4 linked regions of the Homo sapiens genome follow. The protein of the gene in region 3 interacts with the protein of the main gene of each other region in a biochemical or structural test. Each region holds a gene or a part of one and is shown on either strand. Other genes may lie near its edges. The genes, in order: NRP1, DCN, FLNA and RALA.

Region 1 (7,692 bases), on a different chromosome or scaffold from region 3:
TTTAATTCAACTGTTTCTTTGGAATGTAGTAGTCATAGTTTGGAATTTAAGTTACAGTTCAGTTCTATGTGGTTTTTATGCTACTCAGTGTCTGAGAATACAAATGTCATTTAAAGTTAAGGCTTCGCTGTTCATTTTGAAACAACAATTTACAAGTGTCATATTGTCATAGAAAATAATAATTTCTGTAAAAAAAATCTGCACAAAATCTTATGATGGTACAAAACATGAAGCAATAATATACCAGTAAAATGAAAACATTTTACTACAGAAAGTTTTATAGATTTCCATAAAGAAAAAATATGTTATTTTACACCTTTAAAAATTACAAAACAATCTAAAACAATATAAACTGAACATTTTGTAACACTGCCTTTACAAATTAATAACTTTATAAACATATAATTTTTAAATATATTTATCAGTGCAAGATACTTTAAATTTTAAAGTTGCAGTATCATTTTTCCTTGGCTGAGGACAACTTTAAGTCTGTTGCCTTTAAAAACAACAAACGAGTGTTTCTTAGTGCTTTCCTTCTGGTAGGATTATATCAACTAAATGAATGTCTCTGGGGACAAAAAACTATTCTTCTTTCATGGTGATCAATATTTTCCTGGAAACAAAAGGCATTCTCAATCCAATTTAACTAAGATGAATGGACTGTCTCGTCTATGATGCAAATGTGACTCCCAACAAATGTCTTTGAGTGAGACGTCTAGCAATGTGGGAAGGAAGATCTAAAAAATCTCATGTCCAACATGGCATGATAAAAATCCACCAAAACCAACCAAAGCTTCTTTGGGTTAATTCATAGGCTGCCTGGTAAGATATTTGCTTCCCTGTGCTGTTAGAGGCTTAGATGTTGCCAGCCCTAAGGCAGGCTTATTCTTTGTGAGCCGCTGGAAGTTTCTAGAAGCATTCATTTAAGTCTATTTTTTCAAGGTTGCTGTTATGAATTTTTAAAACATTTGTTTGACTTTATGTGTTTTTCCCCCTCTTATCTTAAAATACTTGACCCCCAGGCATCAGGATTTATAGTTTCATTCTTAAATTAACTGTTCTTCCTTCCACTTCCCTTGTGTGACTCAGTAGCAAAATAAGAAAGTTCTCTTGGGTCATTTTTGCATATTTGGATAGAAAAATCTCATGCTTTTGGATTTGGAAGATTTTATCCAGTTCTTCCTTTGGGTCTCACTTGAAAGCCAATTTGTATTATTTCTTTCCTCAACTTATCACTATTTCTACTAAATGCCAACATTTCTATCAAAGGTCATTTTGAATAGAATAGATAAGGAAAAAAGATACTGTCACTTTAACCAGTTAACAAGAAAACCAAAGTTAGACTTTGGAGGGCAAAGTTAGGAATTTCCCTTATTTATTTATTTTTAAACATAAAGTCTAGTAAAATCGTTTGCCATTCCCAGCAGGTTAAAGCTGCAAGTTTCTTTCCTGGACAATGGCAAATCCTCCAATTCTAAGAGAGAAAAAAGACAGAGAGATAGGAGAGAGAAAGAGAAGAGAGTTTACATTTGAAAATACATTCCATATGAAAGAACAATAAGAGAGAATATTGTAGCTTTATACAAAAGGGTCAAGAAACATGAAATTGAACTACAGAAAAAGCAGAACAATTAAGCCACGTTGCCAAATCTTCAGAGCCCTTGCCTGCCCGGAGGGGCTGGCATCTCACACGAAAATAAACTTTCTTCTTAGTCAGTGGGCCACCAGAGTTTGATTAAAGAGCAGGGCTTTCACCAGCAAGAAGCAGAGTGGGTCGTTAATGTAACACAATGAACCAGTACAAACAAAAAGGCACTTGAGAGGACATAGACTAGCCAGTGCCAAGGATTTGTGTTTTTGTTGTTGCGGTTGTCAGCAGTATACCCAGTGGCCAGCCGTGTTCAGGGATGGCACCGTTTTCTGTATGGAGTTCACAAGCACGAGGTTTAGTACAACACCGGAAAAACAGCAAGAAAACTGGACAGTATTGCTTCGTAAACAGAGCTGACACACTACACCAGTACTGAGGCTACAGTACTTTAAAAAGAAAACAGCCTAATCCTTCTTTGCCTATGCACGACGCGGGCAATTATACACAAGTACAACTTCAGGAGTCCACTGAAATGCGGTGATTCTAGTATATTCTGGGCACTGGGTTTCAGGTAGCATGTCCATCCAAAGGGCCACACGGAATACGCTTGGTGCCAGCATCTTGGATTTCGCTCAGTTTCCAAAAAGAATCCACAAAGGGGAGAGGAGAGAGAGAGAGAGGGGCAGGAGGGGTCGAAATGAATGATTATGTCAATCATACTTGGTCTCAACACCAGCATCTGATTATTCAAATGAAACCAACAGGAAAAAAGCTGACTGCACATGAGTCCGATGGTGAACACAGCTCCTTGTCCATGTCTGTCGGCCATACTCATTGAAGCTCCTGAGAAAAGCCTGGCTCAGTGGTCATCAACACACTTCCCAGCCTGTATAGTGAAAGATCAACAGCTCCCCAGCTCACTCCCGTCCTTCCACTTCCGTCCTTTGACTGTCTTTTCATCTCTGTCTGCCTTCATGCCTCCGAATAAGTACTCTGTGTATTCAGTTTGTCTTTTTTCAACTTCACACCATCCACAAGTTCAAAGTTATAGTTCTCCAGGGCAGACAAGTTTCTTTCTGACATCCCATTATGCCAACAGGCACAGTACAGCACGACCCCACAGACAGCCCCCAGGAGGACCCCCAGGGCACTCATGGCTATGATGGTGATGAGGATGGGGTCTAAGGTCTTCAACACATTGCCTGGCTTCCTGGAGATGTTCTTGTCACCTTCTCCTTCACCTTCGTATCCTGGCGTGCTCCCTATGGAAAAAAACAATATTGTCTCCGTGAGCACCGCCAACAGACCAGATGAAAGCAGACAGAAAAATAGAAAGGAACGAAACAGGAGCAAATCACACACCCCAGTTTTGCCTGTCATATCTGACTCATTGTTGGGAACAGAAGTGTGGGAGGTGGTAGAGGGGAGTGGGCGCTGGGGCTTCTGACAGACTGCTTAGCACGTGGAAACAACCCATTCTGGATCAACTGGGAGGTTCCTTGCTCATCTAACTCAGATTTCATGCAGCCCCATCTGTCCTAGATTGTAATCTGTGTTTACAGTCCTTGGCTAGATAGGTGATCATTAAGTTTTGCAAAATGCTTAGTCACACATTAGTCTAGCAAGGGGATTTTACCATTCCCAGTGCATGTACCTAACCCCAAAACAGGCACAAGAAAAACCTTCATGGCTGCCCTTCTACGTGGTGCTGTTTCCAGGATCTGGCATGGTTTATGCATGTGTTTGTTCTCCCATATGGAAAATCTTCAAGTGAAACGAATTTTGCCCAAAGTCTACAGTAGTTTCAGTAAAGAAGGAGTGATTTTTTAGAACAAGAGAATGCTTGCTGCTGACATGTAAACAGAGTGTGGCTCAAATCGAGAAACCATGTCTGTCATGCCAAATAGAAGACATTTACTAATAATCAGCATCTTTGCAGCCCTGGTAGTTTAACTGGAGACAGTTGCACTGCTCTGCAGCTCAGTCACTGGGGACTTGTTTTCTTTGGAGTGGAACAGGAGAAATTGTTAACATGGGAGCTTTGAGCCTAATTACCTGGTACTAGAAACGGGATGAAAATGTTAACGCACAATATGCCTGGGGTTTACTTAATGGTGTTCTGATCAACAAAGATTCCAATCAAAGAAAACTAAAAATATGAGATGCAAATCCCTAACCAAGAGAAAACAAGCCTTGGGGCATATTAATACTCTCTCCCTTGATGAAATATTGTTTTGAAACAACCTCTAATAAAGTTTACATCTCTGTGTGGACTTGGTAATGTGTTCATATTACTAACAGCAAGGTGCAATATTTATTTGTCTCTATGAAGTCCACGGCTGGCCATAGAGTAGGATCCCATTTCTAAGGGCAACAGATGCTGACATGCATTGATGATAAGGGTGCAGCACCATCCACACAGCAGCTGTGAGTGATGGTGGAGCAAGTGTCCAACAGCCCACAATGCTGGCTGGGAGATCTGGAAACTTCTGGGAATAGACTAATACCAGGCAAGGCCTAACTCTGATCAAAGGTCTTGCATTTGATCACAAAGCAGCGTTCAGCAAAAACACACATTTATAGTTCATCAGGCTAAAGTGTGAGGCTACCACCTAATTAGCTATGCTACTTAAGTTTCAGTCTCACTATCTGTAAAATGGGGACAAATACAACCCCTAGAGCTGCTGTGAGGATTAAATAAGATAAGGTATGTAGGACGGGTGCAGTGGCTCACGCCTGTAATCCCAGCACTTTAGGAGGCTGAGGCCAGGGAATTGCTTAAGCTAAGGAATTCAAGACCAGCCTGGGCAACATGGTGAAACTCCACCTTACAAAAGACAAAAAAATAAGTTGAGTGTGGTGGTGTGGGCCTGTAGTCTGCTCGGAAGGTTGAGGCAGGAAAATCGCTTGAACCTGGCAGGTGGAGGCTGCAGTGAGCTGAGATCACGCCACTGCACTCCAAGCCTGGGTGACAGAGACAGACTCTGTCTCAAGAAAAAAAGAAAAGAAAAAGATCAGGTAAGTAAAGTGCTCAGAACATACTAACTCTTCAATAAATCCTTCTTATCATCATCATCATCATCACAAAACCAAGGTTCTAGTAGAGGAAGATGGGAAAAGATGAATCAAACACAATGGATTATCTCAGAAATTGGGCTCTGGTCTCTTAAAGATCCTAGCTGGATATCAACAAACAGAAGAATTTCGGTTGGTTTCAAATAACTGTGTATGGAAATAGTCTTCACTAATTTTCTGTCTTTGTAGTGATAAACTGAGTGTGTTTGAGCTGATTATCCTTTATGTTCCACCTCTAGACTGGGCAGGGAAGGGCCAGGGTGAGCACACTTCCCAGGCTCAACCAGGTGTACAAGCAGGACCCGTCACCGAGGCTCCCCAAGTCTTATGGGCAGCTCGGAAGTGGGTACTCTGTGAGCACAATCCGATCCACAGCACCAACCCAGGGCCATGGGCATAGATGTTTTTTATTTGAACTTTTTGACATACCAGTGTATTAGAGTTCCACAAAGTTTCTTCATAAACACAATGAAAGCCATAGTAAAATTTTTTAAAAATTGGTCAGCAAGACAAATTTACCTGTTTCATCAATTTTAATTTCTGGGTTCTTTTTATCCAGGTCTGCTGGTTCTGACAAGTCAAACAAAATTGAAAGAGATATTTGAACTGCCATCAAAATATAATGCACCAAACTACACAAACCTTTAGGTACATGCACACACACACACACACACACACACACACGTGTCTACTGGGCTCCTTTTGGATTTTTTAGTTCAATCAGAAATCACCAAACAGATCAATAAAGAGGCAATGTTAAATGACCGGGAAATTGGTAATGTGACATCACAACACTGCCTTTAAGGTGCCATATCTAAATCCAGGTAGCACTGCTGCTAGCAGAATCTGTTGTTTTAGGAGACAAGGGTGGGCTGGGTATGCTGGCTCGTGCCTATAATTCCAGCACTTTGAGAGGGCAAGGCAGGAGAACCACATTAGGCTAGGAGTTTAGGACCAGCCTGGGCAACATAGTGAGATCCCATCTCTACAAAAATAAAAAAATTAGCTTTCCAGCTGCTTAGGAGGCTGAGGCGGAAGGAGAGCTTGTGCCCAGGAGATGGAGTTTACAGTGAGCCATGATGGTGCCACTGCACTCCACCCTGGGTGACGGAAGCAAGAGCCTGTCTCAAAAAAGCAAAAACAACAACAACAAATTTAAAAAAAAAAAAAAAGAAGAGAAGGGGGAAGAGACATGGTTTTGGCATCTGAAATGTGGAAAAAAATCTGGTGAATATAGGTTCTACTGAAGTAGATTCGTACATATGGTGACCATCCTATAGTTTGTAGATAACTGCTTCCTAAATTTAGTGTGCGTTAGTTTGGCTTCTCGAATAGTATGCCAACTCTTTGAGGCAAGAGACTGTGCCCTGTGTATTACAAAAATAGATAAATACATAAAATAGCTATTGAAGAAGTAGAGTTCCAGTATTCCTGTGGTACTAAGTACAGAGCAGGAATTTTTGAGTGCTTTGTCCACTGCTGTATTCCAGCATTTACAACAGTGTCTAGCACATCATAGGTGCTTTAATAGATATTTGTTCTATGTATGAATGAATGAAAGATTAATAAATAGTTGATAATCTCATAGCATCCACACCCAGATGTTCAAGGATGCATATTTGATGAATCATTGTACAATTGTCTTACACATATTTTTATTGGTAGCAGCATAAACAAATAAACAAAGTGGTTTAATGGAGCCGTAGTTGTGAATTTCCCACTACAATGTCTGGCAGCAACTACAGCTAAATGGACAAATCACAAGAAAAGAAAAAGTCCCATAGAATTGTCTCAACTATGTGCTTTCTTTTCTTTTCTCCCTTCCTTCCTTCCTTCTTTTTTCTTTTTTTTGAAATGGGGTCTTGCTCTGTGGCCTAGGCTGGAGTGCAATGGTATGACCTTGGCTCACTGCAACTTCCGCCTCCTGGGTTCAAGCAATTCTCCTGCCTCAGCCTTCCGAGTAGCTGGGATTACTACAGCTGCGTGCCACCACGCCCAGCTAATTTTTGTATTTTTTAGTAGAGATGGGGTTTTGCCATGTTGGCCAGGCTGGTCCTAAACTCCTGATCTCAAATGATCCTCCTGCCTCGGCCTCCCAAAGTGCTGGGATGACAGACGTGAGCCACTGCACCCGGCTCAGCCATGTACTTTCACTGGAGCATCCGCATGCTGCTTTGCATATGGTATGTAGTCAGTTAGAACTTGTTGAACCGAATTGAATTTCGTTAGAACTTGTTGAACTGAATTTAATTTCGTTTCTTTGTTTTAGTCTGTGGAGTTTGTTCTCACATCCCAAAACATCACCATCATCACTCTCACTTTGGAATGGAGAAGTGAAGAAATCACAGACACTGTGTTACTACATGAAATACACATTTTTACAGCAGTGTAGATATGGATGTGGGTAATTTGTAAAGGAGTTGCAACTAAACTATTAAGCCTTATCATTCTTGTGAAGATTTGCTAAATAGTGCAGCACTAAGCAGATTCCCTTTAATAGTATGAAGAAGCAAGCCTTTATTCATTGCTCCTTTCTTTTTGCCCAATTTCTTCGATGGATCCTATCAAATTATTGCCGCTTTAGGGATTATATATATTCAATATATTATATAATAAAAGCTTTGTAAGTTGCTGAAGTGACCAAAACCCCCATTACAGCCAACAGACCTCCTTTGTCTTAAATTGGCCCAATAGGCTTATCCCATTTTGTTATAATTAACATCCTATTATATAATGATGTATAACAAAAGTTTCAATGTAGCAAATGGAGCTGAAGACTAATTACTGTGCTATTACACTGCCATTAGTAATGCTATTTGTAATTATATATCAAGAACTAGGGAATATGAATTGGTTTTCTATGTCTTACATCCACCTAGTACAAGACCCATAAAGACCAACTCTGAAATACTAGGCCAAGTCTCTGAATCTCATTGAAGTCCTTTAAGTCATTTCAGATATTTTAAAAGTCAGAAACATCTACTTGTGATAAAGCAAAGAATTATGGCTTCTATGGTTCATTAACA
Region 2 (8,235 bases), on a different chromosome or scaffold from region 3:
CATTATTTGTGCTTTTAAAATTGACTATGTACCATGGTGCCTGGTGCAGAATGAGTACTCCAAACTTTTCTTTTTAATGTATTACATCATCTTCCTGAGAAGTAGCTCTATTTTCGCCATGCTCATCTATCTTCCTTCCCCTTACTAAGATATTAATATACTGAGATTAAAACTACAACCTTCTAACTAGTTTCCTTGACTCTAGTTTCACCACTCTACATGTGCTTGCTAGATTTGATTTTCTAAAATAATAATTGGATCATGTTATTACCTCATTCAATTACCTTTGATAACATCTAGATTCAAGCATAATAATTGGCACATATTCATCAACAAATTAATATTTGATGAACAAATGAATGAATAAATGTATAAGTGCTCCATGGGAGAATTTCAAGTCCTTCCACAGTTAGACCTTACCCTCATTTATTTCATTATCTCCTTTTAGTTATTTCCATAAACATGGGACATTAATTTATTGTGTGACTTTGACATGTCAGATACCATGAGAGTTACTGAATGTTCAAAGAAATAAAGGAACTCAAGGCTTCTTTGAAAGAAAGTATCTGCTTAAGCCACATTGATTTATTTATTGTCTTCTGCTTTCCCATTGCCAAGGTTTGTTAGTGTCATTTTGCCAACATAAAAAGCCATTTCTTTCTTTTCTCTCCATGCATATTCTTTTCATCCCTCAGGATTTAGCTCAAATTGTACCTTGTTCATTATAAACACTTACCTAACCACTCAAATGTAAAGTGATCCATCCCTCAATCCCTTCTCTGACTTTCTAAGACAATTATTTTAATTACATCATACTTTACTTTGGCCGGGAATTATACATTATAAGTTTTCTGGTATGCTAAAGCTAAAATATTATTATACAAATCTATAGTTTATGCCATATCTCCTTATGCAACATATTTCCCTTGAGGCTATGCCCTTCACATCGTACTTTGTATTTCTTGGTATCTTCCATGGGGCCTGGTATAACACTTCCTCCCACAGTGGTTCCTCAGTCTATATTTTTTGATTAATTGATTGATGAGTTATTGTAAATTTCCTTGTATTTAACAGAGAGGTATGTACCTTGTGCAGACTAATGGATATTCAATAAGTGTTGATTTACTGTCCAAGTACAAACTAATCAATATTATGGAAATAATAATTAATCTTTTAATTAATTACAACTGACAAAAGAGATGCCCCAGAGCATTCAAGAAAAGTCAGGAAATTAAGGAACTGAATATCTCCTTGATACTTTTTAATCTATTTTAATTCATTACTTATCCTTTCCCTGTCTCTATTCCCATTTCTACTTTACTGCTCAGAGTAGAAATTCTTAACCTGGAGTCTCTGTTTCCTTATAAAGTCCATGAATGGATTTCAGCTGGACTTGGAGCCCAATAAAATGTTATGCATAAAGAAAGCCAGGCTGTTATGTAACAACACAAAGTCAAGGCTTAAACGAAAGCTTATCTAGCTCCAAACTATATCATAGCTTAGCTGATTTCTTCTGTTGTTAGGCAGAAAATCCACTGGACTATAAAAGATGTGCAGTCTGGTTATTGTACTGGAGTGTCCAAGGTAAAGTTTGTAATAACAAAAAACACAAGAGAAGCAGCAGCGGAAGCAACAAGTGTTGCTTGAGATGTGTCAGGCACAGTTCTAAATGTTTTATGTATTAAACTTCTTTGAACCTCACTATAAACTCATGAAGGGGATACCACTGTGGCTACTCACATTGTATAGGTTAAAAACCTGGAGAACAAAGAGGTTAAGTTACTTGTACAAGGTACCAGGACACCAAACACAATGGTAAGGGATGGAGGAATAGAGGCATGGGAAGATAGCCAAGGTAAAAGTTGTCTACACCAAATTTTCTTTCAAGCTATTCTGTATTCAAAGTGCCCTCAGTTCCACGCTAGTCATCTTTCTTGGCTAGGGAAGAACTCTGTCTACAGTGGCAACTACAGAGCCAGACAATTCACACCAGACCCAGATCTGACTTTGCAGAGTCAGTCTACAGACAAACCAGTCACATCAGGATTGTGAAGATAATCACTTGCCTCTAGACCTCTTAGAAAGTAAAGGGGTGTCAGAAGGAGACCTTTCTAAGCTCTGGCATTCTTCATATCCTTAATGGGCAGGTACAATTAAATACTTTGTATGTGATGTCAATGAGAGAGAATGGCCCTGAAATGAACTTCGACAATGTGCAGAATACAGTTAACCCTGTTAGCTAGTGGGTTGTCAGTAGAAATCAAAGTTTAAGTAGTTTAACAGTAGATGTGGGATGTGCTCTGAATTGGAATATTTCACATATCTATATGTCAGCCAGGGATTCAGGGAATCCTACCCCAAACATTCCAAGCCAGAATGACTTTAAGCAATCTGTGCACAGTGCTGTTTCTAGTCTTAAAATGGTTCCATTTCATGTTGGATTGCAAGAGACCTGGTTTCTGGTCATAGTGTCATGACCTCTTGGTGACTTAACTGCGTATGACTTTGTTGGGACATAGTTTCTTCTACTGAAAAATGAGTATGACGATAGATGTAACTTGTGATTAAAGATGCAGCTTTTAAATATGATGATGTTTGGTAAAATGCTTGAGATTTTGGAGGTGAGTTTCTTTCCAAACAACAACAACAAAAAGAAAATTTTTATTTGTTCCTGAACAAATTAAATAAAGTTTTAAAAGCATTGCAACTTGGTCATGGTTTGTAAAATAGTCTGAAAAGATGTTATCTCAAAACTTTGATAATTACTTTTCTATATGTAAGAATTTGCTTCCTCTTTCTTAAGATACATTATAGTTTAGTATAGTTTAGTAATGAAAAGTGGATTAGGCATGAGAAGACCTGGATATTAGTTTCTGCTTTGTTTCTTGCCAGCTCTGTGAACTTGGGCAAGTCACTGGGCTTCAATTTTCTCATTTGTAAAACAGAAATAGTAAATATGACTTATCTTGTCTAACTCAAAGGATTGTTTTGAAATATGTCAAGACATAATAAAAGCTTGCATTTACAGAGATTTTCACTTATAAGGATTAAGTTCTGAGTTAAGTGTTTTATATATATTGCCTTATTTAATCTCCACTCCAACACTATGAGTTAGGTAAGAATTTGTATCCATTTTTCAGATATGGAAACTGAAATTCAGAGAGGTTAAGCAAGTTGCCTGAGTTCATATAGCTTACTATCGGGGGGAAGGAACAAGATCTAAATCTTAACCATAATGGTTCTGCTTTTATAAAAGTAAAATTATCTACATAAAAAGGCATTATGTCTTTTTTTCTCCTCCTCCTCATTTTTCTTCTTCTACTTTTTCTTTAATACTTCCTTTTCTCTCTCTCTGTCTTGTAATGATGGCCATAATTTGTCATATACACTTTAGTAGGGTTAAGTTTTGATAAACAGTAAGCCAGGATTGGGGCAAAACACCAGTCCGGGTACGGTCCATAGCCAATCATTTGATTGTCTTTACTAATTTAGCAAATGTATCTTGGTAACTTAGTATATACCATGGCTATTCTGGGTGCAGGGATTCTACAAACATGAACACAATGTCATTCCTCCCTTGGAGTAAGACACGTACATAAATAATTATAATATGAGGCAGGAGTGATTATATGTCATCAAAAAGAGATAAATGCCATATAAGGAGAGTTCAGAAAGGAAATTAATAAATTCCAAGTAAAGGGGATCATGGACTTTTGCACCAATGTCCAGGGACAATAGTGCTTGCCTTTGTCTAAACTATCAGAATAACTAGATATGTGGTTATTAAATGTTAAGGAGATGCAGAGTAGGGTAAATTGTTTATCTGAGAGGCTGGGCTTAGGAAATAAGGCAAACTATAACGTGGTAACACGCCTCCCCCTCCTTAGATACCACTTGAGAATTTAATTTCTCTAAGTTTTTTTGAGGAAAAAGAATATTTACTGTGGAAGAATATACTTTGATGGCTGGAGGAGGGAAGGAAGGAGGCTGGAGGATGGGAGGGGGATCATCTCATGTTTCAAACTGTTGATTTCCAGTTTCCACCTGGTAACAGCCTAGGGGCCAGAGCATAATGATACAAGTCAAAACACAGAGACCTACACAGAGACAACTAACAGCATCCAGCAAGGGAATTATAAAAGCTCAAAAAAGATTTCCAGTGGCTAAATAAATACCTTTCCTTGTAGTTGCACTTGTTTTTCTTTTCATTTACTGAAATTTGGAAAGACACATAGACTCTATTGCCTTTTCAAAGTTCTAGTTTACATAAAAGTATAATCTATGAAAATCAAATTTTTCATATATAGAGGATGAAACTATGTTGTGATCAACTACAGGTTATCTATGTATTTTATTTAAAAACTGGTGGACAGGGAGAAAGATTTTAAACTATGATTAATGAAAGTGATAGATGACATACTTTTCATATAAAACCATGACTTTCTTTCAGGACACTTTAGAAATATGTCCAAAATATACAGAAAAACTCCACAGCATAGTGCTTGAATTTACACAAACATTCCAAGGCAAGTAGGAATCCGAATGAGTAGTTTCACATAAGGCTACTCATTTATTTTTGCAGTCCACATTTAAAACAACTACAAGATTAATTTCATTCCATTTTTCTGGACTTACACATCCCAAAAGCAAGAAAAAAATGTCATTTTGGAAGTATAATAAATGCTACTTGTAAACAAGGCTAGAAAGGGTGGAGAATGAAATGAGATGGGGGGTGGGGAAACAAACCCTTTAGTTACAATATCTTAGGGAAATGAATCTACAATAAGACAAATTTCAAATCAAGTTGCTCCACTATACTGCATAAGCAGTTTAGAATCTTAAGCAGATGCAAAAAGAATAAAGCAAATGGGAGGAAAAAAAAGGCCGATAAAGTTTCTGGCTACAATACAAGAGACATATCATTACCATATGATCTAATGTGGGTGTCAGCCGGATTGTGTTCATTGAGGGAAACCTTATTTTTTAACTGTGCTATGGAGTAGAAGCAGGAGGTTTTCAACCTAGTCACAGAGCAGCACCTACCCCCTCCTCCTTTCCACACCTGCAAACTCTTTTACTTGGGCTGAATATTTAGTGTAATTACATCTCAGCTTTGAGGGCTCCTGTGGCAAATTCCCGGATTAAAAGGTATGGTTTTCAATAATTGTCCTGAACTCTGCTACAGACTAATAAAACTTCGGTCAAGTTGCGAGCAAAAGGGATTATTTGGTGAGAAAAAGAAAAGGAAAAAAAAAACTGTTAAACTTTTATAGTTTTTATGCAACATTTTAAACAAGTATTATTTGAAAACAGAAGTTAAATATTTGATAAAATGATTGAATGCATTGTTTTATTTCTTTCTCTTCTGTTTTTGCAAAGATGCTTCTTAAAAAACTGTAACCTAACACCATGACTCTCTATATTAATGTTTTTGTGTTTGTATTAATGAATGTTTAGCTCTTCAAGAGATGGTAACCGAAAAGTATTCTGAAGTAGCATATCTGTAATTGACCTATATATTTAAAAAATGTATTTTTCTCCTGAATTTTTGATTGCTTTAAGGACTTTTAAAAGCCCAGAAGAACTGAACTCTGGTGATTAGCTGAAAATACCTAATGTATATTTCTTCAACCCCAGAAATGAACAGAAATTATCACCAGAGAAGTGAAAATAAACATTGAAAATATTTATGTTATTAAATGCCTAAGATACTAAAAACGCTGTATAATTTCTTAAATGTAAAGTGTCCCAGTCAGTATCTTCACTGCAAGTGAAATTTTAAGATACATTCACTATAAAATGAGGATGTGGGTTAATTTTCTAATTTTAAAACAGGGTAACACAGTGACCACTGATTAAGTGGGCTCCCAGTGATGTAAATACCTGTGGCTTTTTTTTTTCCTGTTGCTGTTTCTAACCAGAAAAGAGCCAAATGCCTCCTATAGTAACCCTTGTTTGTGGATAAATGCCGCCTTTATTCTTTATTTTAAAATTACATATATTATAATTGAAGTTTTTAATCATCTAGTGCTGTAGGATTTTAATTTTGTTTTGCATTTATAGCTTCACTTATCTCTTGAGGGTTAAATTTTGACTTTGAAAGTGACACCAGAGGCATAGATAACATAATGCAAATGTTGATCTGGATGACATACTTCATTTAATGGGCTTAACTAGTTTTAGGAACCAGAAATTATTATTTTTGGTAAAACATTTGTAAACTATGGCAACTAGCTTCAGTGGAGTAGTGATATTACATTAGTAATTAGCATCTTGGACATTGTCATGCATTTTTAGACTACTTAAAACAGTTTCAGTATAATTTAAACAGCATATCATCTCAATAACAATCTCTTTGGTTACTACTTGGACAGCTGCTCTTTGCTCTTTATATTTCTGATTAATTAAGGAAAGAAGGAAATGACGAAAGGAATTATCAGTATTGACAGCCCACATTAAATGTTTTAAGATGCTGGGTCTTGAAGTACCATGACACTAATTTAAAACAGATGATTTTATGGAAGATTTTGCACAAAGTTTCTGGACATGCAATTATTTTTTCACAGTACAGTCAGGGTTAAATGCACACACACACATACACTCTCTCTCTGTCACACACACATGAACACACACACATACATTCTCTCTCTCTCACACACACACACACACGAGCAAATGAAAATGAAATAAAGGTCGGTGATTGAAGTTATAAGCTGCCTGTCTATATTCAGCTTCAATCAAAAAGAATATTGTTTGGAGAATTTGTACCATTTTAACAGGAGTAAACAAACATAAATTATAATACTATTTCTCTCAGCTAATACTCAACATTTTCTTTTTGTGGGTTGTTAGTGAAACAACCAGGCATGTTCTGCTCTGGAGAAAAGATTTCAAAGTGACATCTGCATTAACTGTCGTTGCTATTTATTAAATCTGCAATGACTTTGCTTCATTTTTCTTTTAAACTTGTAAGACATTAAATATGCAAGGCTAGCAAGCTTGTGGTAAACCATAAACATTGCATTTTTAATGGGAAACAGATACAAAACCACTCCCTCAGATACAATCCAAAGGAACAGGCTGCCAAAACAAAAGTCTTCTCTTAAAGGGATACTCAGTAACTGAATGAGAGTGGGCTGCTAGAAGAAGCTTAATGTTGAACTTAAAGTGGCAGTGTGAATAATAATCTTTATGATATTTTGTTAAATGAAAAGCCACAAGCCTGTATTCAACATGTGCTGCCTTAGACACATATCAGTAGTAAATATAAACTAAGAACAAACATGTAAGAAACTGAAAAACATTTGTTTCTTCTCTAGAGAATCTAGGCAAAAATTCCCAGAAGATACCTTAAGGTTAGATCATACAAAGATCTTTCTTTTCTCTTCTCTTCTTTCTTTCTCTCTCTCTCTCTCTTTCTTTCACTTTCTTCCTTTCTTTCTTTTTCTCTTTCTTTCTTTCCTTTTCTTTCTTCCTTCTTTCTTTCTTTCTTCCTTCCTTCTTTCTTTCTTCTTTTTTTTAATATGCTACAATTGGATAATGACTCAAAACAGCTGTAAGATTCTACTTACGAACGTACAGCTTTAATATGGATTCGTCTAAGTGTACAATTCAAGGTAGAGATGATGGGACTAAATATCTGCTATGATGGGACTAAATATCTACTATGTTTTGGAGATATCAGAATGGTTTCAATGCAATTTAAAAAATATTTCATCTCCCAAATGACTTTGCTGCTATATAATCAAGTACTTTTGTTATTCAGATTTATTACGATTTTGTCACTCAGATTTATTTAGTGCACTTCAGTTGATTTAACAACATAGATTCGTGCTTGTGGAATGAATGGATAAATATGGAATACATTTATCAAAACAATACTTGTTTTTTTACAAAATGCCCTGTTAGCAAAATGAGATCATATATACATCACATAAAAATCAGAATTTTCCATATGTGTTTATTAGCTTATTAAACATAATGTTTGAGAAACTAGGAAATTGATTTATTTTTTAAAGCCGATCTTGCTTATACCAAGTTGAGGTTTTCAATCTGCTTTTTTTATATCAGAAATTCGATACTGAAAAAAAGCTAATTTTGTGTTTTAAAAAATCAGACTGATTGCTTGGAACAAATGGAATAAATCGTCTTGTCAATAAAGTGATGGTCAATTGAGTCATTTGTGTGCAAAATATTGTGCAAGGCCCGGGTACAGAACAAGGAATAATAAGACAC
Region 3 (7,692 bases):
TGCGGCCAGTAGCGCACATCACAGGAGCCGTCGCCCTTGTCGTCACATTCGATCTTAGCCTGCGATGGCCCTTCCACCGAGAAGCCTGACAACAGCCACCAGTCCCCTCAGTGCCCTGGAGCCTCAGGGTGGGCCGTCCTTGCCATCGTCTGTCCCCAGGTGCCCATGCTGCAGCCTCCAACTTACCCAGCGTGCCCACGTCGTCCCCGATAGCCTCCACCACAAAGTCTGCTGACTTGCCAACGACGCCGCCCTCCAGCCCAGGGCCCCAGGCCCGTACCTTCTGATTGCCACACTCGGTGCCCACCTTCACTTCGAAGGGACTGCAAATGCGAGAGCCACACAGGGAACACCGAGGATCACCACATGAGCCAGCGTGGGCCCCACTGTGGCGGCCAGGCAGGAAGAGCCCATGTGGCCCCTCATCATCAGGTGGGGAGGCAGAAGGAAGAGAAGAGGCAGAGTGTGCAGAGCTGGGAGAGGGATGCCTGGGGGCCTCACCTGCGCCCGATGTTCTGACCACCCCACGTGATGGTGACGATATAGGTTCCAGGGACCATGGGGTAATACTCGAAGCCATACACGCCATCCCCCAGGTCCTTCTGCTTCACGCGCTCCTCTCCCTCTGCCAAGACAAGGAGGGCCTCAGGCCTGCCCAGCAGTGAACCCGGGGGCTGCCGCCACCCATCCTGGCCTGGCTCCAGGCCAACTTACTGGGGCCCTTCACGGTGACCTTCAGCTCCCCACTGCCAGCGCCCTTTGTGTACACCTTGAAGTCAGCTGTCTCCTTCACCCGCACACCCTTGGGCTGGAGGCCCCGGCCAACCGCCCGGCAGGCACTCGGGTTACAGGCTGCAGGCAGAGGGGCCAGCTGAGCACCAGCAGCTCGGCTGGGCGACCCCTCCCTTGCCTCCCACAGGGCCGGGCTGTCAGGATTGGTGGGTCCCTCAGAGCTTGGCTGGAGGGGGACATGCAAGACAGAACTGGAAGGGACTGTGACCCCAGGAACTGTGGCCTGGGCCAGGACATGGCAGGCCTCCTCCCACCTGCTCCACACCAGCCCAGAGCCCCCCACCCTCCCCCTTCCAAGAAGAAGACAGATCCAAGTACCGTTGACCCTGTGGGCAGAGCAGAGAGCAGCAGGTTTCTAGACAGCTGGAGCGAGCTCTTCCGAAGGTGAAAGCGTGAGGAGAGAGATGGAGAGGGGCGAGGAGAGGAGAGGAGGAAGGGCCCCAGCAGGGGAGGAAAAACAGCATGTGCCCAGACAGTAGAAGCTCAAAGAGTAGGGGCCCCGGGGCGGGCTGCAGCGGGACTGGCCCAGGGGGTCCCCCTCCTGTGGGAGGCCCAGACTGCAGTGCCACAGCAGAGGGCAGTCAGGGCCGGGCCTACCTTGGCCAACAGTGACAGTGTAGGGGCTGCGAGGGATGGGCACGCCGGCAAACGTGACGTGCACGGTGTGGACGCCCTCCATGGTGGGCTGGTAGCTGCAGCGGTATGTGCTGTCGCCCCGGGCCTCCAGCTGAGGCTCTACCGTGCCCTTCTGTCCCATGGGGTCCTGGATCACAACCTCGACCTCGCCCGTGCCAGCTCCTGCCACGAGGCACCTGCTCAGCTCCCAGGCCCCAGTGCGGCTCTCCCCACAGACCAGCTGGGCCTTGGCAGCCTCCCCTCACCTGCCGTAAAGATCTCAAAGTAGGTGGTCTTGTTGGCGATGTTGCCACTGGGCTCCAGGCCGGGACCTTGGGCTGTCACTTTGCTGGCGTCACCCTGTGACTTATCCACGTACACCTCGAAGGGGCTCTTGGCGATGTGCTGGCCAGCAAAGAGCACAGTAACCTGTCCCCAGAAGGGTGGGCCGTGAGGGTAGGGCTGGGGGCCTCCAGCCACTGCCTGAGGTCACAAGCCTCCCCCCTGGCCAAGGGCTCACCTTATGAGTCCCCGTCACCTCGGGGACGTACCAGACGGAGAAGGTGCGGTTCTTGTCGTTATTGGCGGTCACTTTTGCCTGCAGTGGGAAGGAGCCTGTGAGCCTTTGCTAAGAGCAGCCCCACTGAAAGGGAGCGCTGCGGGGCCTCTGCTGCCAGCAGCTGGCCCTACCTCCTCCTGGTGTCCGGCCGGGTCCTCCACGTACACCAGCACCTCTCCCTGGCCAGCACTTCTGGTCTCCACAGTGAACTCTGCCCGCTTCTTCACCATGTTGCCTGTGGGCTCGATGCCTGGCAGGGGAAGGCGAGCCAACCACGGGCCAGCTGTTAAGGCCACAGCCTCACCCCTCCACCCTTCAGCCCTCCCTGCTGGCCCCTAAGTCAGGCACATTCCAAACTGGGCAAGTTCATTCAGTGTGAGCTGTGGCACAGAGCCTGGCCTCGGGACCCAGCTGTGCTCTCGCTGCTGGGACAGGCCCAGCCTGTTTTCTGGAACATTCATTCTCACCGCACTGGGCCCTTGTTCCTGTGTGAGCCTTGACTGGGTTTTAGGTCCCTGTTACTGAGACCTGGTTCATCTCCATTTATAATAAAGACCGCTGGATGCTACCTCCCCGAGGACCCCACGCAGCAGGCTTCTGTGACTGGAGGAACCTATTAGCATTCTCTTGTCGTTTTCACTAGTCCCAAAAACCCACTCTTGTCTGACTCTTGGGTGGCTTGATCACCTAGCCGCCATGTAACCCAAGACCCCTGGGGACCGCCACGTTTAGATGGGACACTGTCTTATGGGGAAGACGTTGGCACACGGGTGCACCCCTGGTGGGGCTCCCTCACCTGGCCCGTAGGCACGGGCTTTCTTCGGGTTCAGTTTGGGCCGCAAGGGAGCCCCTGGCTTCAGCTTGGCCTTGGGGAACTGGGACAGGTAGGTCATGACAGAGTGCTCGTCCACGTTGGGGTCCACAATCTCCTCGGGGGTGATCACCTGTCACAGGCAGAAAACAGGAGCCATCGGGCCTCCGAGTCTCTCCCAACTGCCGATCCGGTCCCCTACAGCTGTAGCCAGGCCGGGCGGGTGTACCTGGGGGATGCCCAGCCAGTCATCCGCCTGCTGCATGGCCTCTCGCGCATTGGTAACGGGCTTGCTGGCGTCCCAAGAGTCCCAGTCAGGACACAGGCCTGTGGCGCAAGGGAGGCTGTGAGTCTGGGGGCCGCAGAACCCCCTCAAGGGCCACCCATGGGTGACCCCAGCCCAGTCTCTCCTGCCTCTGCGCCCCCTCACCCGGGGCACAGCTGTCCACCAGGGCGCCCAGGGCCCGGCCGCTCTGCCAGTCCCGGCTGAAGTTGGTGATGGGCAGCTGCGGCAGCTTGTTCTGGATCCAGCCCAGGAGCCTCTGCTTGGGGGTCTGCTTCTTGGCCTCCTCATCCTCCTCCTCGTCCCACATGGGCATGGAGATGGAGTAGTGCAGGATCAGGGTCCAGATGAGGCCCAGGATCAGCTTCAGGTTCCCGTCCACGATGGCCTTGCTGTCTGTGAGTAGAAGAGTGGCCACGCTGGGCACACGGCTGTGCGGGAGGGGCCGATCCCAGGCTTTGGGGTCAGGGTCTGGCAGCACGGGGTAGCAGGGGCCAAGGAGGAGGTAGACACCCCCTCTTGGCCAGTGGTAGGATGTGGATGAGGCCCTCTCTGCCCAGGGTCCCAGGGGGTGTTCAGAGGTGAAGGAGACTTTGGGGTGAGGGCAGATACACACAGACACACACACACGATGCCAGCAGGGTATGATTACTGCCAGAAGCCCTGGGCCCAGAGGAAGGGCAGAGGGCAGACCCAGCCTGCAGATGGGCAGCTCTGGAGAACAGCTGGACAGTGTCCACAGCTGCCAGAGCAGGGGTCCGCCACACACCTCAGGGGCCTATGGGGAACCAGGAGGAGGAGGCTGACTCCAGCTGGCCCAGAATCCAGGGCCCATGACCTGGAGTGGGGCTGGGGCTGAGGAAGAGGAAGGTGGGTGGCCCTGGGTGGTTGGGAAATACAACTGTTGTTCCAGGGTGGGTGGGGTGAGGCAGGGGAAGTGGGGGAGTTGGGCAAACGCCCTTTGGGTGAGGGATTGTGACCCCCGCCACCACCCCCACTTCCTCTACCACCTCGAAGACTCAAGCTTGGAGTTGGGAGGCCACAGGCCTAGCCAGGGGAGGGGCCCAGAGCCCAAAGGAACCAGCAGTTGGGCCACATGGCCCTGACTCACTGGGGCCCATCGGGAGATGCCGGGGTGGCAGCAGGAGACACTGGGAACCCCCTTGCCACCCACTGCCTGACCCACTTGCCACCTAACGGGCCTCTGGGCCTCGGCAGGCTCGCCACAGGGGAAGTGGTTAGGGCGGGTCCCTGACACCCCCCATCACCATGGCAACCCTGCTGGGCTCTGGGCCCCACCCAAGGCTACTTCTGGGTCTCAGGCTCAAGGCAGGATGGCTCATCTTTAGAAGCCCTGTCAGCCTCCCCCATAATCAGACAAAATACTTCTCTGGTGAGTCAACTAGGGGGCGGGCCTATGAGGAGGGGCTGGGCTGTCCATGGCAGCTGCTTCCCAGCCCAGCAGGCAGCACCTGGAGGGCCAGGTGAGCCGCTCAGAGTGGCCTCCCCAGTTCCCAGGTTGGTCCTGGCCCCACGAGGCTGCCTTTCACTCTCCCCAAATGGCAGCAGGGAGGGGGACTCGGAGAGGACCAAGGGTGCAGGGCCAGGGAACAAGGCCAGCCAGGGCTTCCCATCAGGCCCCCACCCCAGTCCAGCCTCAGACCCCTCAACGACCCCCACACGGGGAGCAACCAGGCCCACCAGGTCCATGTTAGGCCAGCCTACTCCGTCCCCATCCCCCTCCCAAAAGAGAGAGGGAAGGACCAGGGCCCAGGGCTGGGAGACTGTCTGGCTGGATGGCCCCGCCCCATCCCACCCCCCTTTCCCCAGCCCCTGGGCCAGCCAACCCCTCCCTCCCCTAATCACTGCTGCTTTCCAACATTTTTTTGCCTTATATGGCAAAGCTCTGGGAACTAGGCCTGCTCCAGCCAGCTCACAAGGAGGAGGGGAGCTGGGAGGAGGGAGGAGACCCCCCCTAAAGAGCTGGGGTGTGGCCCGCCTCCCCACATCCGGTCGCCCCCCCTACCATCCAGGACTGAGATGACTCAGCTTGGCTAGACTGAGGCTGGGACTTGTGGGGGTGGGCCTGCCCCTCGCCTCAACTGGCATTCCAAAGAAAGAACTTTGGTTCTTGGGATCTGCCCTCTGAGTGGCTGGGGGAACCCAAGTCTTGGTCCCTCACTTTCTTGGGTTCAGCAAGGGCCATTCCAGGGCTGCAGGGTAACTGGAAGGCCTCTCAATTCTGAAGAAGAGAAGACTCATCATCCCTCTCCTCTCCCTGTTCCACATCACCCCCGAGTCACCCATTCTGGGGCCTGCCCTCTCATGCAGCCCCTATCTTGAGAACGAATTGGGCTGCTGCAGCAGGCCTGGTCAATGCCAGCCTCTCCAGTCCAGTGACACAGACACTGGGCTGGCACAATGCACGCTGGAGCATCTACCAACCAACTCCTGCGTGCTACACGCAGAAAAGCAAGGCCTACATGGAAGCAAGAGTTTGGCCCAAGATGAAGAGAAAAGTTGGCGTCCAAGTAGTCTACAAGCCAGGTCTCTCAGTCAACCACGCCCAACTCACCCCGGGTGCAGTTTTGCTAACTATGCTTCTTTCTGGCCCCCAGGTTGCCTGTGTGTGTGTGGGGGGGTAGATCTAAACTGGTGGTTGGAGCCATCTCCGATGGGCGACCCATCCTCCAGGGACACAAAGAGCCCAGAGCCCCAGACAATGGGACGCACGAGCTCCAACCCACACTTCAGAACCAACGGGCCTCTGAAGGCCAGAGGGCCCTCTCTAAACAGCTGTGGGGGGAGAGCCCGGGCCTCCTCCTCCTCGGGGACGGGGCGCAGGGCCAGGAGCCTGCCCAGTGCCCGACCCCCCAGGCCCACTCCCACCGCGAGCACAGCCGCGGAGGCGCGGCCTGCGGAGGATGTGAGTTCAGCCTGGGCGCCGGCCAGCCGGGGCGCAGCGGGCGGGGGCGCGTAGCGGTTCGCACGCCCGGCCGGCCAGCCAGCCAGCCCGCGCGCCTTTGTTCTGCAGGCCCGCGTGGAGCAGAGCAGCCGGAGGCCTCGGGAGTTGCGCTGCGGCCCGGAAGGGGGTGGTTTGGAGGGGTCCGCCCGGGGAGATGGAAGGACGCACGGAGTCCCCGCCCCCGCCCGCCCGGCGCTTCGGGGCGTCCCTCACCGATGGACACCAGTTTGATGCTCTCGCGGTCCAGGAACTCGAGCGCCACCGACACGTTCTCAAGCTGCATTTGGCGGAAAGTGGGCCGCTGGTTGTGCTTGCGGTGCATCTTCTTCTGGCTGAGCACCTCCAACAGCGCGATAAGCCGCAGCCCGTCGCTCAGGTCCGTCTGCAGGTTGGCGATGCGCTTGCTCACGCACTTCAGGTGCTCGTTGCACCAGCGCGTGAAAGTGTTCTGCTGGATCTTCTTCCACGGCGCGTCCTCCGCCAGGTCCTTCTCGGTGGCCGGCATCTCGGCGTCCCGCGTGTCGACGCCGCCGCCCGGAGCCGCGCCTGCTGCGCTCTGGCCCGCCCGAGAGTGGGAGCTACTCATTTTGAGGCGCGAGAAGCCGGGGGGGCGGTGCTGCAGCCTCGGCGAGGGGACGGCCCTTTAATTAAAGTCGCAGGCACCTAGGCGCGCGGGAGGCGAGGCAGGGAGCAGAGGTTGCGCTGCGGAGAGAGCGAGCCCTTTAAATGCGGGAGGAGGGCGGGGCCAGAGGGCGGGCCTCCTGCGGGGAGGGGCCGTGGGGTGGGGCTTCGAGGGCGCGCCTGCCCCACCCCGCCCCGCCCGTTGGAATGCCCCCACTAGGCCCCCGGGTTCGGCTGATCAGACGCGAAACCCGGGCTCCAGGGTGGGTCGCTGGGCAGTGGGGTGGGCAAGGATGCTCCCAGCCCCGCAGCCTCGCGTTGGCGCTGCAGGAAACGCGCCCTAGAGCGAGGAAAGGCTGAGCAGTGTCTGGCGCGGGACTGCTTGGCCTGCAGCCGGCGCGCCTTACAAGGGACTTTCCTTCCCCAGGGCCCCTGCGGGGGGTGGGGTGGCTCTCTTCCCTAAGTCACTTGGGCTCTGCCCCGTCCCTGCACATCCCTACCCCCCGCCGTCATCCCCCTTCCCCGGGCCCCCAGGGCCTAGGGTTCCCCGGCGGCATCCCCGTCCGCCGGCCCGGCAGCGGCGGGAAGGGGCCAACCCTAAGAGCGAACCCCTGGAGAGCGGCAGCCCCGGACCAGGCACTGCCGAGGGCGCTTTGTGTGCTCATCACCTGGGAAGCGGCTGCAGGGCAAGGCCTGCGCCTACGCGGTCCCCGCAGACCCCCTGCCACGGGCCCGCCTTCCCAGTCCGTAGGGCCCTCGCCCGCGCACCTGTGCCCGCTGCTTCCCACCGCCTCCCTCTCTGCTTCCCTCCACCCGGGAGGATATGGGGCACTGGGCCAGGAGGCCGCCGGCACTCCAGGAGCAAGCAGCCTTCGAAGGGGTCCGGGCATGCCCACGGGCACGCCAGTGGGCGCGGGCAGAGGGCGCCGTGCGATGCATGCAGAGACGTGTGCCCGCCTAACCCTTCATGCCAGTTCACCCGGGGCACTGGGGGGAGCTGAAGCGGGGGGTCCTCTCCTGTCGGAAAGTCCCCTCAGCCCAGCGTG
Region 4 (7,692 bases), on a different chromosome or scaffold from region 3:
CAACATGATCACATTTTTTTCTTTTAATAATACCTATTTCCTAGAACTATTCACTGAAAAATGACAACACAATAGCAACAAGCAAATTATGTAACTATGCTGTGGCTGCTAAATATCATTCCTCCTAAACAGAACCTGAGTTCCTTAGATGAATGGCTGATTCCTGATCTGCAGCAAGAAGCATAAAATTTAAGTCAGAAAGCAACGAAACTATCAAAGATGAATGGGCTGAGTCAAACGGACATAGGACCAACATGAAGGAGCATAAACGGTTAAAGGGAAAAAAGTATAAAACACACACCCACACACAAAGTATGCAACAGAACGGAACACAATGATGACATAAAAGCCATGGGTTTTTGCCCCTAGTGGTTGTGATTCTATTTCCCCAGAGACTAGGAATTTCAGAAGACCTCTGTTTCAAGTCTCTGGCTAACTAGCTAGGACAGGAGGTCTCGATTCTGACTAAATGTAATTATTGGAATACTCCCAGTATTGCTTTCTAATGCAGATAAATCACTATGAAAAGGAAACTAGATGAAGGTTTAATTTCTGATTTTATTTTCAATTGAATTTTGTCTGTTTAATTGACACATATTCACAGAGTACACAGTGATGTTTTGAAACATATAACGTACAGTGACTAAGACCAGGGTAATTAGCACATCCATCATCTCAATCATTTATTATTTGTGTTGGGAACATTCAATATCCTCCTTTCAGGTATTTGAAACTATACATTATTGTTAAGTATAGTCATCTACAATAGTATAGTACACCAGAGCTCATTCCTCATATCTAGCTGTAATTCTGTATAATTTAACAAATCTCTACCTATCCCTCCCATTCCAGCCTCTAGTATTCTCTGTTCTATTTTTTACTTCTATGAGATCAACTTTTTCTAAGCTTTTACATATGAATGAGAACATGCAGTGTTTAACTGCCTGTTCCTGGCTTATTTCACTTAATTGTCTCCAGTTCTATCCATATTGCCATGAATGACAGGATTTCATCCTTTTCAATGATTGAATAGTACTCTATAGTGTATATCTATCACATTTTCTTTATCCATTCATCTGTTGTTGGCACTTGGGTTGGTTCTGTATCTTGGCTATTGTGAACACTGCTGTAACAAATAAATGTCATTAATAGGAAAATGGCTGAATTATGGAAAAGTCTAACCATGGAATACTTTGTGGTTTTAAAAAGAATGTGGATACATCTATATGCAGTGACATGGAAGAGCTGTAGGATTTGTCATAAAATTTAAAAAGCGCACCACAGAAATATGCTCTATATATACAGATACAAAATATATTACGTGTGTGTATATATATACACAAATCCTATTAATACAGGAAGAAAAAACAAGCAAATGCAAACTTTCCCTTAGAGATATGTATGACTGCTTTTAACGTCTGGAAAGACACACCCGTGTTAGCACTGGTTACTGAAAGGGAGGGGAAAGGAGTGAACTATGGGAGAAAAATGACTCATTTTTCCTCCTTATGTTTCTATATTATGAATTTTTCTTTATATAAGCATGTATCCATGTATTACTTATACAATGAAAAAACCCAAATATGATATTTTCCAAAAAATACAGTGTATTTCTACCAAAATTCTTCCCTCGACATAAAACTGATTCTCTTGACATAATAAATCACACTGCCCCTTTGGACATCTGTTAATATTTGCTCAACTTCTCTCTATTCTGCCAAAATGTTCCTTAAAATCAAGAGCAACCTTGGAGTCGTGAATTAAGACCCAGAGCATTTAGCTAGAAGGATAATAACAAGGTCACTGAATGAATCCAATGAGTACACAAGTAGGATTGCCCAGATGTTCCTTTAGCCTCGGAGTGATTCCTCTGTGACAAGCATGGCTTCCTGAGACATGCCATGCCCCAGCTCTGGTGGCTATGACACTTTTTCATGACTAGATTTAAAATCTGCATCTTTGAAACTTCCACCTAATGGTCTATTTGGACTCCAGATGAGGATAACGCATGAGCCAATGATCTTATGGAGAGCTAGCATTTGTTCTGTGACAAAGCATGACACTTCACAATTTAATAAAAGGAAATAACACTTGCTATTCCTGAAAATTTGTGATCAGGCTTCTAGTAGTGGATGACATAAGAAATGGGAGATACACTAGCTATTCCAACCATTGTTTTGTTTTGTTTTTGAGATAGGGTCTCACTCCCATTACCCAGGCTGGAGGGTAGTGGTTATGATCTCGGCTCACTGCAGCCTCCACCTCCCAGGCTCAAGCAATCCTCCTGTCTCAGCCTCCCAAGTAACTGTGACTACAGACATTCGCCACCACACCTGGCTAGTTTTTGTATTTTTTGTAGAGATAGGCTTTTGCCATGTTGCCCGGGCTGGTCTCAAACTCCTGGGCTCAAGTAATCTGCCTGCCTCGGCCTACCAGAGTGCAGGGATTATAGGTGTGGTGGCACCTGGCCCCAACCATTGTTTTGAGTAAAATATTGAAGAAAGAATGTGAGCATGTGAGCGCCAGAGTTGGCCAGACCCAGAAGCTGCAGATGCCACCACGAACCCCGTGACCTTGAGCCAGTTACGTAATCTCCCCACACCGCAGCTTCCTTGTCTAAAAAGTGAGCATCAGAAGAGTATCTACGCCTCACACAATTAAGGATTAAATGGTTGGTACTTACCACAGTGCCTGGCTCTTATAAACACAAATAAATATTAGCTTTTCTGATTATTAGATTATTTCCTCAGGAAAACAACCACAAACACAAGTATAACCTAATTCTGGAAATTGAATAGTTGCTGCAAATGACTTTTATGTAGCCACTGAGGTACTTTATCTGGTAATCACTCCGCAGGATGTAGCAGTACATGAAATTATAGTCTTCAGTATGGATTTGCACCTCACTTTACAAGCAGCCTCGTTTAATGTAATTCTGTTTTGGACAGGTGACCACCGACTGCAGACTGTATTAACTGAAACTGGCCACAGCAATGTTTCCTATGTGCTTTTCCAGAATCCTGCCACTTTTCATCAAGAGCTGAAGTCTATTCCCCTTCCTTCTCAACCTAGGTGAGACTTTGTGACTATCTCCAACCTGTAGAATGAGGTAGAAATAATGCTGCATAACTTCAGAGACTATGTCATAAAAGGCCGTATGGTTTCTGCCTGGTTCTTTTTCTCTTGTGACACTTGCCCTTGGAGACTCTGCCCACTGTGCTGTGAGGAAGCCTAAACTAGCACACATGGAAAAGGCCACATGGAGGAGCCCACCTGGAGAGGAACTGAGGCATCCTTGGATAATGGCCAGCATCATCTGGCTGAGCCAGACATGTGCGAACAAGCCTTCAGAACCTAAGTTTAGGTATTTCCAGTGCCTAGACTTGAAGCTTTCAGCTGAGGCAGCAGACACTGTAGAGCAGAGCCAAGCCATTTCCACTGTGCCCTGTTCAAATTCTTGGCCACAGAATGTATAAGCAGAATAAATGACTGTTTTACCCATAAAGGTTCTGGGGTGTACTTTGTTATACAGCCATAGTAACTAAAACGGCCTTATACCTTTATTTTATTTTTTATTTTTTGAAAAAGTAACATAGTCGTACCTCAGTATCTATGGGGGATTGGTTCCAGAATGCCCGTGGATCCCAAAATCTCTACCTACTCAAGTCCCGCAGCTGGCCCTGCAGAACACATGGATGCAAAAAGCCAGCCCTCCGCATATGCAGGTTTCACATCCTGCTGTATTCTCTGTCTGCATTTGGTTGTGGATGCAGAGCCCACCGACATGGAGGCAGACTGCATCTGTGAAAAAAAAATCTGCACAGCTCAAATCTGTGTTGTTTGAGGGCCAAGTGTCCATGAATATGGCAAAAAGTTCACAAGGGTATTTACAGTGAAAAAAGCATAAACTGTGGCTTAATTCTCTGGAGGCAACCACAGGTACCAGAGTCTTACATATCCTTATGATGTGTACATAGATAATGTGTATGTATGTGTGTTTAAAACACATGGCAGCAAGCTACAGACACCACTCTGTACTTTGTTTCACTTACTTTATAATTGAAGATCATCTGATATCAGCACATTTAGTTCTATCCTCATTTCTTTTTAATGGTTGGGCAAAACTCCATTATTTAAACCAGTCCATTACTGAACACTTGGATATTTCCAGTCTTTTGCTTCTAAAAATAATGCTTCACTGACTACCACTGAACATACACGTATACGTGAGTGCATAATTTGTTCTGTATAATAACATTTTTAGGCCGGGCGTGGTGGCTCACGCCTGTAATCCCAGCACTTTGGGAGGCCGAGGCGGGTGGATCATGAGGTCAGGAGATCAAGACCATCCTGGCTAACAAGGTGAAACCCCGTCTCTACTAAAAATACAAAAAATTAGCCGGGCGCGGTGGCGGGCGCCTGTAGTCCCAGCTACTCGGGAGGCTGAGGCAGGAGAATGGCGTGAACCCGGGAAGCAGAGCTTGCAGTGAGCCGAGATTGCGCCACTGCAGTCCGCAGTCCGGCCTGGGCGACAGAGCGAGACTCCGTCTCAAAAAAAAAAAAAAAAAAAAAAAAAAAAAATAACATTTTTAGCACTTAAATTGCTGGGTCATAATTCTGATGGGTATCACAAAACTGCCCTTCCACCAACATATGAGAGGTTCCTGTTTTTCTATACTCTTGCTAACAGTATATTCTATTCTCAACCTCTTTGCTTTTTTTCTCCCAAAGTGACGGGTAAAAAAAGGACATTCCACTATATTTTAAAGTTGTACTTCCCTTTTTATAAGTGAGACCGAGCCTCTCTTCCAGTTTAAAGGCCATTTGTGTTTCCTTTCTACGACATGCCAGTTGCTGTTTTTGGGCCATTTTCCCTAGGCTTTTGTCCTGTAAGAGCTGTGCTAATACAGACACCATACTTCCCAGGGCCTCTGATGCCAACAGATGATCACCACAAGGACTGTTACAATATAGCTTTCTATCTTGGATTGCCAGTGTCTGCATCTCTTCCCCACTCCCCTTAGGTTCAAATAGTTTTTATAGTGTGTTCTACAACCTACTCGAAACATCGATTAGAAAAGTATATATATGCTATGAGAATGTTCAACGTTGCCTTTTAAAACCTCAAACACCCTCAATCTTAACATATATTTTCATTAGTATTTTAAAAATATTTGCCATACAAATTGTCTCTTCAAATCTATAATTTTCTAATGACTTAGAAATGGCAGGCACAGGCTGGGCATTTTACATATGTGATTTCATTTCATCTTTACAATAATCCTATGAAGCAGGTATTCTTGTTCCCATTTCCAAATGGAAGCTAACTGAAATACCCAAGCCCTAGTTACTGTGTTCAGAAACCATGGTTCCCAGGAAACTATGATAGGGCATGCTATGGACTGAATGCTTGTGTCACCCCAAAATTCATATACTGAAACCCGAATTCCTTATGTGATGGCAATAAGAGATGGGGCCTTTGGGTCGTAATTACGTCACTAGGGTAGGGTTGTCATAATGGAATTAGTATCCTAAGAAGAATCAGGAGAGCTATCTCTCTCTCTCTGTCATGTGAGGATGCAGCAGGAAGGTATAAGGAAATCCAGCAAATCAGGAAGAAAGCCCTCTCCAGAATCATTTTGTCTAAGACCTTGATCTTGGACTCGCCAGCCTCCAGAACTGTGAGAAATAACTTTGTTATTTAAGCAAAACACACATACACACACATACACACACACACACACACACACACACTTGCCCTAGTCCTAACCTTAGAAAAAATTCGTATCCTGAATAGAATCCTGTAGTACTCACTTTGTACAGATATCTTAGACCTAAAGGAATCTGACAATGTCTTAAAAAGTTAAGAAGCTTAAGACAGCAACGACACTGTCTTAAGACCTACAGCAAAATAACAGAACAAATCTCAAACTTTTTTTTTAACCTAGTACTTTCTGGATCAGGGTTATAAATCTACAAGCACATGCAGCACTTGCTAGAATCATAAATTCTTAGGCCCCATTCCAGACCAAATGAATCCAAATCTCTAGGGGTAAGACCCAAGAATGTGTGTTTATCAAGATTTACAGGCAGTTCTTTTGCCTATTGGAGCTTGAGAGGCACACTATAGAGCCTAGATACTTGCAGGCTGAAGAAAGACCCCACTTGGAGGCCTTTAAGATTCTGTGCTACCTCAGCCCAGTGAGCAGTCTTTCTAGATACTGGAGCTGGTCTAGGGCAGTGGGATGAAATGTACTTGCAGGTGTTCCACATCTGGTCTTCAGGAAGGGCCACTCTGAACAAAGCGAGAAGACAAGAAAGGAGGGCAGAGTGTTTACTTTCCTTTCTTTCTCTTTCAGGAGAAAACAAAGGTTGAGGGTGGGGAGTGGAGAGTGGCAGGAGAGATTTTAAAACGCTCTTATCTGGGGGCTTCTTCATCTTGGGAGGTACCCTTATTTTTAAGAACTTAAGTGGGGTTGGGTAGATGTCAGGTCAGAGGTAAGAACGGTTTAGTGCTGGAATCTTGGGACTCACACGATTCCTTCTAAATTATCCAAAGACTCAATAGGATAAGGGGGGAAAAAAGTCAGGAATGCCATCAGTGCTTTAAAAAGAAAAAAAGTACATTTAGCTGTAGTGTCTCATGTTTTAATGTCTCTTGGGAAGCTAAGGACAAGGTGAACTAAAATTCCTAACATGTATCTGAGTATTCAGGGATGATAAAAATCAACAAGGATTAAACCTCTATTTGAAAGTTTCATAGACTCTCCAGACAAAATGGAGCCAAGTTAAAGCAAACCAACCTATTTTAACATGATGCAGTAGTAAAGAGTCACGTGTTACCTTGTCAACATTAGCTCGTGTTTTAGCAGATGTTTCCACGTAGTTAACATTCCACTGCTCAGCTCTGTTTTTTGCCTCTTCTACAGAAACCTGTCTTTTATCTTCTAAATCTGATTTGTTACCAACCAGTAGAAATGGAACATTCTCATCTTCTTTTACTCTTAAAATCTGCTCCCTGGATAAGAGAAAATGAAAAAGAAATATTAACATTATAAGGATAGCACAGAAAGTTCTTGTTTGCCCCATACCTATTTTTCCCTATTGTTAACATCTACTACTGTGGTACACAAATCACAATTAATGAACCAATATCGATACAGTATTAGCAACTAAGGTCCAAACTTTATTCAAATGTGCTTGCTTTTTGCCTGACATCCTTTTTCTGTTCCAGGATCCCATCCAGGTTGCCACATGACATTTAGTTTCGTCATGTCTCTTTAGCCTTGAGTTGGCCATGGTAATTCTCAGACTTTCCTTGTTTTTGATGACCTTAATAGTTTTGAGGACTGCTGGCTGGCAGTTTGTACAATGTCTCTCAATTGGGATTTGTCAGATGTTTTCCTCATGATTAAAGTAGGGTTATTGGTTCTTGGGAGGAAGATTTAGAAAGTGCTATTCTTATTGCATCATATCAAGGGTCCCACCAATTGTTTTTCAAAACCCAAATGTGCCAGAAATTACTGGAAGTCAGACCTTGAGCATAGATTTTGCATTGAGAGGTAAGTTATCCACTGTGAAAGTGTCATCAATTTTAAAGTACCATGGTTCTGCTCTTCCTAGTCATGTAAGTCTGAGCAAAGTGCAAAGTACTTCTTACCTCAGTTTCCTCATCTATAAAATGGAGCCAAC

What was found.
Region 1: the proteins of FLNA (region 3) and NRP1 interact in a biophysical measurement, tested with the Homo sapiens proteins (one study listed by IntAct).
Region 2: the proteins of FLNA (region 3) and DCN form a complex in vitro, tested with the Homo sapiens proteins (one study listed by BioGRID).
Region 4: the proteins of FLNA (region 3) and RALA form a complex in vitro, tested with the Homo sapiens proteins (one study listed by BioGRID).

The regions. Positions count from the first base shown.
Region 1 is NC_000010.11:33,177,513-33,185,204, forward strand, and holds part of NRP1 (neuropilin-1 isoform a precursor), read right to left. Parts: intron 5,237-7,692; coding exon 5,186-5,236; intron 2,854-5,185; coding exon 2,564-2,853; 3' UTR 1-2,563. UniProt on the Homo sapiens protein: Cell-surface receptor involved in the development of the cardiovascular system, in angiogenesis, in the formation of certain neuronal circuits and in organogenesis outside the nervous system. Mediates the chemorepulsant activity of semaphorins.
Region 2 is NC_000012.12:91,179,568-91,187,802, reverse strand, and holds the start of DCN (decorin isoform a preproprotein), read left to right. Parts: upstream 1-4,985; 5' UTR 4,986-5,148; intron 5,149-8,235. UniProt on the Homo sapiens protein: May affect the rate of fibrils formation.
Region 3 is NC_000023.11:154,364,635-154,372,326, forward strand, and holds part of FLNA (filamin-A), read right to left. Parts: intron 6,728-7,692; 5' UTR 6,612-6,727; coding exon 6,239-6,611; intron 3,457-6,238; coding exon 3,208-3,456; intron 3,105-3,207; coding exon 3,007-3,104; intron 2,911-3,006; coding exon 2,763-2,910; intron 2,217-2,762; coding exon 2,098-2,216; intron 2,006-2,097; coding exon 1,928-2,005; intron 1,837-1,927; coding exon 1,674-1,836; intron 1,591-1,673; coding exon 1,390-1,590; intron 853-1,389; coding exon 715-852; intron 626-714; coding exon 502-625; intron 324-501; coding exon 187-323; intron 86-186; coding exon 1-85. UniProt on the Homo sapiens protein: Promotes orthogonal branching of actin filaments and links actin filaments to membrane glycoproteins. Anchors various transmembrane proteins to the actin cytoskeleton and serves as a scaffold for a wide range of cytoplasmic signaling proteins.
Region 4 is NC_000007.14:39,696,011-39,703,702, reverse strand, and holds part of RALA (ras-related protein Ral-A precursor), read right to left. Parts: intron 7,019-7,692; coding exon 6,844-7,018; intron 1-6,843. UniProt on the Homo sapiens protein: Multifunctional GTPase involved in a variety of cellular processes including gene expression, cell migration, cell proliferation, oncogenic transformation and membrane trafficking.